2 linked regions of the Homo sapiens genome follow. The protein of the gene in region 1 interacts with the protein of each later gene in a pairwise test. Each region holds a gene or a part of one and is shown in the gene's direction. Other genes may lie near its edges.

Evidence for each region.
Region 2: the proteins of UBXN4 (region 1) and UBE4A interact in binary tests that used the Homo sapiens proteins (3 or more experiments, as listed by UniProt).

Annotation. Positions count from the first base shown.
Region 1 is NC_000002.12:135,765,816-135,772,855, forward strand, and holds part of UBXN4 (UBX domain-containing protein 4), read left to right. Parts: intron 1-3,953; coding exon 3,954-4,008; intron 4,009-4,755; coding exon 4,756-4,920; intron 4,921-6,604; coding exon 6,605-6,732; intron 6,733-7,040. UniProt on the Homo sapiens protein: Involved in endoplasmic reticulum-associated protein degradation (ERAD). Acts as a platform to recruit both UBQLN1 and VCP to the ER during ERAD.
Region 2 is NC_000011.10:118,362,593-118,369,632, forward strand, and holds part of UBE4A (ubiquitin conjugation factor E4 A), read left to right. Parts: intron 1-2,447; 5' UTR 2,448-2,488; coding exon 2,489-2,609; intron 2,610-6,038; coding exon 6,039-6,212; intron 6,213-6,830; coding exon 6,831-6,943; intron 6,944-7,040.

The DNA of each region.
Region 1 (7,040 bases):
TCCTGCCCCCTTCTGGCACCCAAGCAGGCATAGTGACCATTAAGAAGTAGATGCCAGCCCGGCACAGTGGCTCATGCCTGTAATCCCAGCACTTTGGGAGGCCGAGGTAGGTGGATCAACTGAGGTCAGGAGTTCGAGACCAGCCTGAGCAACATGGTGAAACCCTGTCTCTACTAAAAATACAAAAATTACCCGGACGTAGTGGTGGGTACCTGTAATCTCAGCTATTTGGGAGGCTGAGGCAGGAAAATTGCTTGAACCCAGGACGTAGAGATTGCAGTGAGCTGAGATTATGCCATTGCACTCCAGCGTGGGCAATAAGAGAGAAAAGCCATCTCAAAAAAAAAAAAAAGTCGAAGCCCAAATGTAGAAGTTATGGAACAGTCAATTTGTTATTAAATTAGATGCAGTGTAGCTTTTCACCCAAATTAAAACAAACTTGCGTTTGTATTTCTCAGAAGAAAATTCTACAGATGGTCTATAAATACGTTTATACACCATTTTCAGATGGTGTATATTTTCAGATACAAGCACGATACCATTATCATACTCAAGAAATTCTCAATTGATACAGTAAGATTATCTAATTTGTCCGTATTCAGATTTCCCAGTTGCTCCAATAATGGCCCTTTTAACTTTTCTTCCCTTGATTCAAGATCCAGTCAAGGATTGTTCATTGCATTTAGTTTAGGCTCTGAATCCAAGACACTTCTTGTTTGCATTTTTCATGATTTAGACATTTTGAAGAGTCTAGGTTAGTTGTTTCTACAATGTCCTTTGATCTGCTCCCTGTTCTATCATTAGATTCAGGTTAAACTCTGATAAGAACATTACCAAGATAATGTTTTGTCCTTTCCATTACTCATATCAGGAGACAAGTAATATGAGATGTATGCATTATTGGAGCTGTAAAGTTTAATTATTTGGTTAGGATGTTGTCTGTTGGGTACCCTTTTCATTTTCTAATATATAAGTTGTCTATGGGGTGATTCAAATGGTAAATATCCTACTGCTTAAAAACTTCACCCGGTGGTTTCAGCATTCATTGATTTTTGCTGTAATCACCTATTTCATTGATGTTTAAAAATTGTGGTATTTTTCTCATTCTGTTTTTTTCTACATTTATCAGCTAGCATTCTTCTGTAGAGAAATGCTTTGATCTACCCCCTCTACTTTCCATCTGCCCACCCCCGCCCCCTTTTTCCAGTAAACTACTTATTGGACACCAGCACCCAGATGAAGGAATAGAAAATTACCAGTGCTAGTCTGGCATGGTGGCTCACGCCTGTAATCCCAGCACTTTGGGAGGCCAAGGTGGGCGGGTCACCTGAGGTCAGGAGTTCAAGACCAGCCTTGCCAACACAGTGCAACCTTGTCTCTATTAAAAATACAAAAATTAGCTGGGCGTGGGGGTGTGCATCTGTAGTCCCAGCCACTGAGGAGCCTGAGGTAGAAGAATCACTTGAACCCGGGAGGCAGAGGTTGCAGTGAGCCGAGATCGTGCCACTGCACTCCAGCCTGGGCGACAAAGTGAGACCTTGTCTCGGAAAAAAAAAATGAAAGAAAGAAAATTAACAGTGCCTAATAAGCTTTCCTAATGCCCCTTCCCAATTATGGATTCCCTCCATAAGATGATCACTATCCTGAATCGAACACTGTAGGTTAGTTGTCTGTTTGTGAACTTTGTGATGGAATCATGCAACGTGTATTTTTGTGTTTGATCTCCTTTGTTCAGCTTTGTATTTTGAGGCTTATCCGTGTTGCATGTCACAGTAATTGGTGCACTCTCATTGCTTTATAGTATTCTGTTTGACTCTACCTTGATTTATTAATCCATTCTACTGTTGGTGGACATTAGGATTGTTTTCAGTTTGGGGCTATTTGAATAGAACTGCTATGAGGAATATTCTTGTATATGTCTTGGTGAACATGTGTACACATTTCTTTTGGGCATATATATGAAGAAGCGGGAATTTCTGGGTTATACATAGTGATCAAACAGCTTTCCAAAGTGGTTAGGCCAATTTACAGTTCCCCTTAGCAGTTAAGACATGTCACAGATGCTTTTTTTTCTCTCATGTGTTACTATCCATTTCTCTATTCTTTTTGGTGCACAAATTGCCCCAAATTTGACTTGTTGGAATCCCCTTCATATTGGGTCTTCTGGCTTTTTGACAGTACTCACTCCCTTGATTGCTGGCACACATTGTTCAGTTTGGTATACACCAAACACTTTTAGAGAAAATACCATTTTCATTTAAAAAAATGAAATATAATTCACTACCATGAAATTGAAAGTGTACAATTCAGTGAGTTTTAGTATATTCACAAGGTTGTGCATCCACTACCACTGTCTAATTTCAGAATCATTATTTTATTTTTTAAATTTTTTTATTTTTTTGAGATGGAGTCTCACTTTGTTTCCCAGGCTGGAGTGCAGTTTCACCATCTCGGCTCACTGCAACCTCCGCCCCCCAGGTTCAAGCGATTCTCCTGGCTCAGCCTCCTGAGTAGCTGGGATTACAGGCGCATGCCACCACACCTGGCTAATTTTTGTATTTTTAGTGGAAACAGGGTTTCACCATGTTGGTCAGGCTGGTCTCAAACTCCTGACCTCGTGATCTGCCCACCTCGGCCTCCCAAAGTGGTGGGATTACAGGCATGAGCCACCGTGCCTGGCCGATTTTATTAGTTTTTGAGATGGGGTTTCATTACGTTGCATTACACTACCATGCTCAGCTGATTTTATATTATTATTTTTTTTTCCTGAGGCGGAGTCTCACTCTCGCCCAGGCTGGAGTACGGTGACATGATCTCGGCTCACTGCAACTTCCGCCTCCCAGGTTCAAGCGATTCTCCTGTCTCAGCCTCCCGAGTAGCTGGGTTTACAGGCGCTCACCACCACGCCCAGATGTTTTTCTATTTTTAGTAGAGACAGCGTTTCGCCGTGTTGGCCAGGCTAGTCTCAAACTCCTGACCTCAATTGATCCGCCTGCCTCGGCCTCCCAAAGTGCTGGGATTGATTACAGGTTTGAGCCACCGTGCCCAGCCTGATTTTTTATTTTTTGTAAAGATGGGGTCTCAAGTTGTTACCCAGACTGGTTTCGAACTCCAGGGCTTAGGCTATCCTCCTGCCTCAGCCTCCTGCAGTGCTGAGATTACACATGTGAGCCACCACACCCAGCCTCCATTTGTTTGTTTATTTCAGACAGGGTCTCCCTTTGTCACCCAGGCTGGAATGCAGTAACGCGAACGTGACTCGCTGCAGCCTCGACCTCCCGGCTCAAGCAATTCTGTTACCTTAGCCCCTAAAGTAGCTGGAACTACAGGCACACGCCACCATGCCTGGCTAATTTTTGTGTTTTCTGTAGAGACAGAGTTTTGCCATGTTGCTCAAGCTGGTCTTTAGCTCAAGAGATCCACCAACCTCAGCCCTCCCAAAGTGCTGGGATTACAGGCATGAGCCACTGTGCCCAGCCTCCATTCATTTTTAACTGATGAACTTCTTACAGTTGAGAATCAAGTTGGTGTTAGTAATTTGGTATTAATAATTTGCTGGCCTTAAGTTTTTATTTTTACAGGTTTTTTTTTTTTTTACCATAGTGCTGTTTAGTTTTATATAAGGAGTAGAGCATTTATAAGTCACTGATTTATGTATTTGTTTGAAAATGTATTTGTAGATTTTAAAGTCAATATCAGGTAAATCAGAAAAAAAGGGAAACTAATCATAAGTGGGAAGTGAGGCATTTAGAATGAAGCTAGGCTTCTGATGGGCTCTCGTTGACTCCAGGATTTCTGTAGGGGCCTGAAGCCAGGCAGATAAATAGTTGCTTGCTTTTTGTTTGTTTGTTTCTTTATTTCTCCAATTGTTTTAGCTAAATCCATCTCCTAAATGTGTTTTATATTAATATGATGTGTCTCAATTAGTGGTGGTTTTTTTTTTTTTAATACAGACTAACAAAAAAACTTGAAGAAAGGAGAGAAGAGAAAAGAAAAGAGGAAGAACAGGTAAAGTTCATGCAGTTAGCATTGTTTTGTCCTCTCATTAACTGAGGTTGTGATTGATTATTCTATTCAGTGTGGCAGGCCTAGGGTGACTTCATAGTTTTAGTTCAGTGTTGCAGCACTATGAAGATAATTCCTGTTTTCTCTAGTAGAGTCATAGTATATACATTTTTTGTGTTCTTTTCGTAAATTACTATGAATAAATTAGACCATGCTTTTTCCCTCTGCAATGATTTTTTTTTACACTAAGAATAAAGGGACTTGAGCTAAAATGTTTGGCTTGAGGTTGAACAAAGTTTTAGTTCATTTTTGTGAAAAAATGTATAGACATTTTGCTGAATTTTTCCTCTCCTGTTAAGCATTCTAGCACATGGTTCATTTTTCTCACCATGTATACCTAACTGTGTAGCATGTCTTTGGAGTTCTAATATAGGAAGGTTACCATTTCATTCAAGCCAAATACGTGACTGCCATGTTGTCCCTGAAGGGTAATATATTTACCCTCATGACTAAAGACCTGTAATTATGCTTGCCTTCAAATTACACTGACTACATTATTATCTTAACAGACCATTGGCAATGATTTATAGATTGATAGACATTTGACCATTAACCATGCCATTAATAAACTCGTCTAGACTTACATTTTATGAAGTTTTATTCTTTTAACTGCAGTTTTCGTTGCATTCAAAATAATATCTGGGGCAGATTATCAAGTTTTTGGATCATAAAACTTTTTCTTTAATTCAGAGAGAAATTAAGAAGGAAATTGAGAGGAGAAAAACTGGAAAAGAAATGTTGGATTATAAAAGAAAACAAGAAGAAGAATTAACAAAAAGAATGCTGGAGGAAAGAAACAGAGAGAAAGCAGAAGATAGGGCAGCTCGAGAACGTATAAAACAGCAGATTGCATTGGTAAGTCTTAAGTTTCCAGACATTCGTGAAACTGTTTTTCTGTGCACAGTAGCTTTAGATTACTACCAGACTGTGCACACAAAAATAGATTTTAGTGACTCATAGACTACCAATCCTGAGCTTCCTTTTATTAGAAATTGTAAATGAATTAAAATAGTTAAGATTAAAATTGAGTTGATTTTTTTGAAGTGATTTTTATTCATATTTTGTTAATTTATGACTTTTATCAGCATTCAAAAAGCAGCTTTTAAAGATTCCCTAGAAAATAAGCTAAGTACTAGTACCTACTACTAGTACTAAGTACCTACTAGTAGTAACTACTAGTACTAAGTACCTAGTAGTTCTTCTGTAGTCACAGGCACACTTTTTTGCAACATTGAAAGGATTTAGGCACATCATAAAGCTTAGTTTGCAACAATTGCTTTTATAATTCATCAGCTGCAATACATATTAAAACCATCCCGCCAGGTGTGGCTCACGCCTGTAATCCCAGCACTTTGGGAGGCTAAGGAGGGCGGATCACCTCAGGTCGGGAGTTCAAGACTTGCCTGGCCGACATGGTGAAACGCCATCTCTACTAAAAATACAAAAATTAATCGGGTGTGGTGGTGGGCGCCTATAATCCTGCTACTTGGGAGGCTGAGGCAGGAGAATCACTTGAACCTAGGAGGTGGAAGTTGCAGTAGGCTGACATGGTGCCATTGCACTCCAGCCTGGGCGACAAAAAGCGAAACTCCATCTCAAAAAAAAGAAAGAAAGAAAAAAAGCCATCCCTACCTTAATATTTTTGTTCATTTGGTCAGTCAACAAGTATTTGTTGAGCATTTATTATTTATTTATTTTTGAGATGGAGTTTTAGTCTTGTTGCTCAGGCTAGAGTGCAGTGGCGCAATCTTGGCTCACTGCAACTTCCACCTCCCGAGTTCAAGCAATTCTCCTGTCCCAGGCTGCCAAGTAGCTGAGGTTACAGGTGCATGCCAACATGCCCAGCTAATTTTTGTATTTTTAGTAGAGACGGGATTTCATCACATTGGTCAGGCTGGTCTGGAACTCCTGACCTCAGGTGATCCACCCACCTCGGCCTCCCAAAGTGCTGGGACTACAGGCGTGAGCCACCACACCCAGGCTTGTTGAGCATTTATTATGTACCAGACCTTGTTCCAGGCTTTGGAGATACAGTAGTGAGCAAATTCATTTCCTTGTTTCCTTAATAATAATTCTGGTCTCCGACAGTTGATAAAACTAAAAAATAACAGTTCCAGAATGTTAAAGTTCACATATGGTGTTAGACAATTTCAGGCAGCAAAGGCACAGTGGCTCACAACTGTAATCCCAGAATTTTGGGAGGCTGAGGTGGGAGGATTGCTTGAAGCCAGGAGTATAAGATCAGCCTGGGCAACAAAGTGAGACCCCACCTCTACAAGAAAAGAAAAAAAATTAGCTGGGCATGGTGGCACACACCTGTAGTCCCAGCTACTCTGGAAGCTGAGGTGGGAGGATTGCTTGAGCCCAGGTGTTCAGAGGCTGCAGTGAGCTATGATTGTGCCACTGCACTCCAGCCTTGATGACACAGCAAGACCCTGTCTCTTAATAAAAAAAAAAAATTCCATGCATATTTGTTTGGAATTGTGTGAATTAACCATTCTGGCAGTAAAGGTAATTGGTATTTAATGATGTTTTAAAGGACCGTGCAGAGAGAGCTGCTCGTTTTGCAAAGACAAAGGAAGAAGTAGAGGCTGCCAAAGCTGCTGCCTTGCTAGCAAAACAGGCAGAAATGGAAGTCAAGAGGGAATCTTATGCAAGAGAAAGAAGGTACTATATTTCATGCTGAAACATCTCTGTGCACATAGGGGCTGAGGAGAATGATTATAAGCTGGTTTTTAACACTGATGTATACTGTGGTTATAAGCAGTCCATTCCAGAGGGACATATTAATTTGACAGCTCCCAATGGTATCTCTCATTTCGTGTGAGTGTACACTAAAAAAGTACTACATAAATAACTTTAAAAGAGGGCCCAATAGCCGGGCGCGGTGGCTCACGCCTGTAATCCCAGCACTTTGGGAGGCCGAGACGGGCGGATCACGAGGTCAGGAGATCGAGACCATCCTGGCTAACATG
Region 2 (7,040 bases), on another chromosome or scaffold:
TGGTTTTTATAACTGAAAAGTCCAGACTTATCTTTCCATCTCTCAATTCTGTTTTCTAGTGTATGTTGGCTTGGTTTTAGGCTAGGCCTTTTCTAAATGGTGTAAAGATGGCAACTCTATCTTACTGGCTTATCAACTCAATCAGGAGAAAACTCACTTTTCCGTAGATTCAGCTGAAGTCCTGAAGCTGGTATTCATTGACTCTGTTAGGCCTCCATAGTGTCTTGTGCCCACTCCTGGATCAGTTGCTTTGGCTGGAAAATGCTGTATTCTTTTTAGCCTGGCCAGACTTGTATGTTCATTCCTGGGGCTAGTGGGTGAGGTCAACCCCTTCTGAACTGGTCAGCCTCTTCTGGATTGAGTGGAGTGGATACCCAAAGGAAAAAAATGAATGTGATGTTTTAGAGAGAGAAATAACAAGAGCTCAATATACTTTTTGCATTCCTCTGGAATTTGTGGTATTTTAGGATGGAAGTAGAATGGTGGTCAGCTAACAATAAGACAATTCTTGGTGTTTTTACATTAACTACAGGTAATAATTAAACTTGTGCGGTAATTACATGGGGAAAATCCCTCTCATTAATTTCAATACTAAATATGGTATCTTTCCCTTTTTTTGCATTATTAAGCTTACTGAAATATACATAGCAAAAAATAAAATACAGAAGGCCAGGCGCAGTGACTCATGCCTATAATTCCAGCACTTTGGGAGGCCGCGGTGGGAGGATCACTTGAGGTCAGGAGTTCGAGACCAGCCTGGCCAACATGGTGATACCCCGTCTCTACTAAAAATCCAAATAACAGTTCAATTCCTTGAAGCAGTAAAGCTTTGAGCTGCACTGAGAGGAGACTAGACTGCCTAAGTCATTACAGCTAATTAGCCGTTAGCTCTTGTGTGGAAAAAATGGCAGAGGAGCATGAAGCAAGTGCTGAAGATGCCTCAGAATTGTCAAGAAATGTTATAAATAATCTCTTTCTCTGGTAAATAAGGGTAACTTTTTCGACCACATTAGCTTTTTTTTTTTTTTTTTTTTTTTGAGACGAAGTCTCGCTCTGTCACCCAGGTTGAAGTGCAGTGGCACAATCTCAGCTCTCTGCAACCTCTGCCTCCCGAGTCCAAGCAATTCTCCTGCCTCAGCCTCCTGCCTCCCAAGTAGCTGGGATTACAGGCACCTGCCGCCATGCCTGGCTAATTTTCGTGTTTTAGTAGAGATGGGGTTTCACCATGTTGGCCAGGCTGGTCTTGAACTCCTGACCTCAGGTGATCCACCTGCCTCAGCCTCCCAGGGTGCTGGGATTGCAGGCATGAGCCACTGCACCTGGCCCACATTAGCTTTTGTTGATATGATCCTGTGAGGAGTCTTGCCTCAATAAACCAAAGGTAGACCAAATGTTCTTTTTTTCTTCCTTTATACCCCTACTCCCGCTATTTCTAAGGTCTCTGTCCTTATAGCAGTTCAAGATCCTTATGAACAAAACATTCATACCCTTTGTCTCTTCCCACCCTTTTCAGTGTTGTATTTAATATTTCTATGTCATGGCCTTAAAATTTCAGAAAGGGGAGAAAGCCTTTCAGGGAGCCCTGTTTATTCTGTTGTGCCACTGAGTTCACTTGGTCTTGAATGAGGAAATGTAATCAGAAGAGTGTGAATGCAGGCTCAGCCAGCTCTACTAAACACCTTTGAGGTATCTATATTTCATATTACACAGTAGACCTGACCGTTGGAATTCGTGTTTCTTCAGTATTATTTTAAGAAATCAGGTAAACAGTGAAGGTTAGATATAGCATGAAGCAAAGACCATTTAATTTTTAGTGGAAGAAATATCAGTATTTTTAAGCCTAGAAATAAATAGATTGCTTAATCTATGTTAAAAACCCACAACATACAGCTGAACTGCTTCCAGTCCTGATTTGCCAGAGTCCAAATCTAAGATATGGGCTTTTACTTAATTTATATGTAGCTGAGAAATATCCATCCCCAGCCCTAAGTCATAGAAGTCCCTTGTCCTCACCCCAGTGAATGAGAACTAGACTGCCAGCTTAATTCTTGGGAAATCCATAATTCTTGTCTTATTATTTTTCAGTGCCACATTGTTATTACAATTAGTAGGTGAGTTCTCTCTTTGACTTCAATAATTCTTTCTACTTAACCTGTTTTCTTAAAGGTATTGCAAATAAAAGTATATCAACAGATTAATGCATTCCAGCTGAACGTTTTAGCCTTTTTAGTTTCAGCTATCCACAAATCAAGCCACCGAGTCCAGCTGGTAGGTTTGTAACCATTTTGCCAAAAATGTCTTGAGTTTGGGGACAGGAATTGGAAAATCTTAACCCAAAGTATTTTAAAATGTATTGTATTTGAGAAATGGGAAAAGAAACAACCACAGGTATATTACAGCTATTGTGTCATCTGCCCTCTTGTGTCTAATACCTGTCCTTTGAACAGCCTCTCCCACTAGGTCTGGATGGAGGATACCTTAAAGTGAAATGACAGACCAGGAGAATAACAACAACATCTCAAGTAACCCCTTTGCTGCTCTTTTTGGCTCCCTGGCTGATGCCAAACAGTTTGCGGCAATCCAAAAAGAGCAGCTGAAGCAACAATCTGGTAAGTGGAGGAGCCAATAGCAGCAAATAAGATGACCTAGAATGGGGTCTTCCCAAATTAAGTATTCTTTGAGTCCTTAATTGCAATTGGAATTTAAGTTTGGAACAAAAGTTGGTTTTTGTTTGTTTGTTGAGAGCAGAAATTGGGGTTTTTTGTTTGTTTGCTTTTATTGTTGGTTTTGTTGTGAGTCCCTCCCCTCCGCTGTCCTCTCCACTGTACAAAAAGAGACCAGGTAACAGGTGGTTCCATAGTAACAGATGCCAGTCGTGATCCCAAAGCTGTCAGGCTGTTTTCTTTAAAAGAAAAAAAAAATCACCTAGTAAAAGCTATTTAAATAAATGTTTTTAACATGGGACACAGAGGTGGTAAGTGTAGGTGTAGAAAGCAAGTCATGTGCAGCTATAGAAAGCAGATGTAAAAGGAAGAACTATAAAAGCTTTTTGACCTGTAGGCAAATGAGACTTGTTCTTAAGCTCAGCACTTCAAAGGCCCTCCCAAGCAAAGTGCTTCTTCTGTTCCGATGAGTGGCATCATTTGTAGCTTAGTCCTGTTAGGACAGACTTTTTTAAAAAATCTGATCCTTAGCCTTACTATGAAAAACATCAGAATAACATCTCAGTAATCAGAAAAAATGGTTTTCTTTCAGGCACCGAATTTAAGATCAAGTCCAGCTTCCTCCTATAAGGAGACATATACACTAGAAGAATTAGGATTTTTCTCAAATATGTTAGTCTTCTGAAGATATTCACAATCTTTCAAACCAGAAATTGCTCCCCTTCTCCTCTCTCCGAAAAGAATAATAGTGTTTTTCTTTTGAGAGAAGGAGAAGTGTTTGCATTTTCCCTTTATTTTGTTTATTTAAAAAAAAAAAAAACACTCAGGTGCATAGCTGACTTTTGGCCTTTCAGTTAGAAAGGGCTGAAGAAAAAAGAGGTAAAGGCAAGACAGATAAGTGATTGATGCAAGGGAAAAACAAAATCAATGTTGATTTTTTTTAACATGGTATTTTCAGTCTCTGAAATCTCTCCCAGATTTCTATGATACGGGGCCAGAATGGGAAACTCTGGTTTAGAAGATTGTAGGGGAAAAAGCAGAGTGAAAAATAGGAAAAATAAGGAATGAGAAAGTATGATTTATGAGTATGTGGTTGAGGGAAATTTTGCTAAACAGATTCTTAGCTTCTGTCACCATTGGAGGTCAGAGAAAAACTCAACAGTATAGCAGCTGAGCAACAGAACGCTTGTCCTTCTGGCTATAAACAGACATAAATCTGGCTAGAGTTGGGAGCATTGCAGGCACATGCCCTTCTGTTACTATTTTGGCACCTCATCATCCTAGTTTGTTTACACTGAGTTTATCATGCCACCAGGTCCAACCTGTTTCCACTAGCAATTAGTACTTTGCCAAAACCTTTGGCTTCCTATGTTGAGCTTATACTCACCACACTGAAACAACTCTTACTTTGAGAGTTTTACCTGGACTTTCAGACTAGCCATTCTGTCAATAGAGAAAAGTACATATAGACTCATATGTGGCATATAGTGAATAACACTACTTTTATGTAGTCATTCAACATGAATGATGGGGCTGGGCGCAGTGGCTCGCGCCTGTAATCCCAGCTCCTTGGGAGGCCTAGGTGGGCAGATCACCGGAGGTCAGGAGTTCGAGACCAGCCTGGCCAACATGACAAAACCCCGTCTCTACTAAAAACACAAAAATTAGTCGGGCATGATGACAGGCGCCTATAATCCCAGCACTCTGGGAGGCCAAGGTGGGCGGATCACCTGAGGTCAGGAGTTTGAGACCAGCCTGGCCAACATGGTGAAACCCCATCTCTACTAAAAATACAAAAATTAGCCGGGCGTGGTGGTGGGCGCCTGTAGTCCCAGCTACTTGGCTGAGGCAGGAGAATCACTTGAACCTGGGAGGTAGAGGTTGCGGTGAGCCGAGATCACACCACTGCACTCCAGCCTGGGCGACAGAGTGAGAGTCCATCTCAAAAAAAAAAATCAAAGGATGGGAGCAGATTTTGAGGACAGAAGTTTAAAAAAAAAAAAATCGAAGGAATTTCATCAATAAGAAAAAAATAACAAGAAAGAATAAAAAGGTACAAAAGATGTGACATGCAACTTATAACCAAATGATTAAAAAATTTATTCTCATCAATCATTAGAGAAGTGCCAATTAAAACAACCATTAAATTGTTTTTTTACCTATGAAATTTGTGAAGATTCAAACAGGCACTCTCTCATATACTGTTGGGTTTGCATGTAAATCAGACAGTCTCTTTGAGGGTAACTTGGTAGTAAATGTTAACTTTTTTTTTTTTTTTTTTTTGAGACGAAGTCTTGCTCTGTCACCGAGGCTGGAGTGCAGTGCAACCTCTGCCTCCCGGGTTTAAGCAATTCTCCTGCCTCAGCCTCCCGAGTAGCTGGGACTACAGGTGTGTGCCACCACGCCTGGCTAATTTTTTGTATTAGTAGGGATGGGGTTTCACCATGTTAGCCAGGATGGTCTCAATCTCCTGACCTCGTGATCCGCCTGCCTCAGCCTCCCAAAGTGCTGGGATTACAGGTGTGAGCCACCGTGCCAGGCAGTAAATGTTAACTTTTTAAATGTTCAAGCTCTTTGATCCAGCAGTTCTGCTACTGTGAATTTATCCTATAGAAATACTCATACAAGTAAACAAAAAGAGTTAAGTTGTATTGTATTCAGTGCAGTATTTAAAATCATGAAATATTAGAAACAACCCTATTGTTCATCAGTTGAAAAGTAGCTACATAAACCACAGGGCATGCAAAAGATGTGATACAATACAGCTATTAAAAATAGTGAGGTAGGCCTCTAAATGGCCTAACAGGGAAAGGTGTTGGTGCTGATTAAAAGGCAAGCTGAAAAGAGCTATGTATAGTATCCCATTTTTTAAAAAAATTAAAAAGATAGTAATGAATATTAGCACCAGAAAAGAAAAAAATTCTTGAACACTGTTAAGTGTCTTTAGGGAATTGGTTCAGGAGACTTTCTATACTATATTTTTCTGTACAGTTAAGAACTATTAAAACAAATGTTATCTCTTAAAATCAGGGAGAAAAGCCATACATTTAAAATAATTAAAGGCATTTTGATCTATTAGGTAATTCTTTGTTCACTAGGATTCTGTAGAGAAGATAACTTTGCTATTTCTGGCAGTGTGGAGTATAATTATGGATAGAAATAAAACTTTTGCTTTGTAAAATGTGGTAGGATTTATAGCCAGGAATTTCAAAACCCTATATTTAACTTCCCTGACTTGAGATGTTCACTAATTAGATGATTAGCTTGTTTTACATCTGAAATTATCATCTTCTTGGTTACATTTATTATTTTTGGTAGCATGCTTGGTTCTCTCTTAAAGGGGTGTAACATTTAACAGTATACATTTTCTGGCAGATGAACTCCCAGCTAGCCCAGATGACTCGGATAATAGCGTGTCAGAGAGCCTGGATGAATTCGATTACTCTGTGGCTGAGATTAGCCGCTCATTCCGATCACAGCAGGAAATATGTGAGCAACTCAACATCAATCACATGATCCAAAGGATCTTCCTTATTACTCTGGACAACAGTGAGTTACAAACTTATAGCATTATTCTACCCTTCCTATTTGAGCTTGGGCTAGGGGCTTGCTCTTTGAAACTGGTTACAGCTAATGGTTAGATACAAACCTACTCACTGCACTCCCTGGAACTCAGGGTTTATATTTCAGTGAACCTTTTGGTATGACCTAAAAACAGTATTTAGATGCAGATCTAACTTTTGTTCCCATTTCAATACTGACTGCACTATATAGCTACTTGCCTTTACTACCTTAAAAAGGAAATGGGAAGGGTAGCCAAACCCATTTTCTTCTCAGAGGTAACCTAAATATTCAGATGGAAGCCTTCAGAGGCATCAGAGAGTGTTTGCCCTCTGTGCCCTGTCTGTGTTTAAACCCCAAGGTTGGTACTAATGTCTGGGATTTACTCTTTAAATGTCATGATGCTAGGTTTATAACAAATCCCATTCTCTGTGACTAGAGGGGGAAAAAAAAAGATTTGAATCTTTAGATGTTGCTTTGTGTATCAGGATCATTCTGGTATTACTTGAGTCAGATTTGCAGTTCAAGAGTGATGCTGTCAAGATCAGTTGTCTGTATAAAACAGAAGCATTATCCTTAACCTATCATATTAAAACCATTTCCCAGGTGATCCCAGCTTGAAAAGCGGGAATGGCATCCCTAGCCGTTGTGTGTATTTGGAAGAAATGGCAGTAGAGCTAGAAGATCAAGACTGGCTTGATATGAGCAATGTTGAGCAGGTAATATTCTTACGTTCCTAATGTGTGCCCTTAGCAAAAATTAGCTATGCGGCTGAATTCTGCTCACTGTTCTCCAACTTATGCTTGTGTCCATATG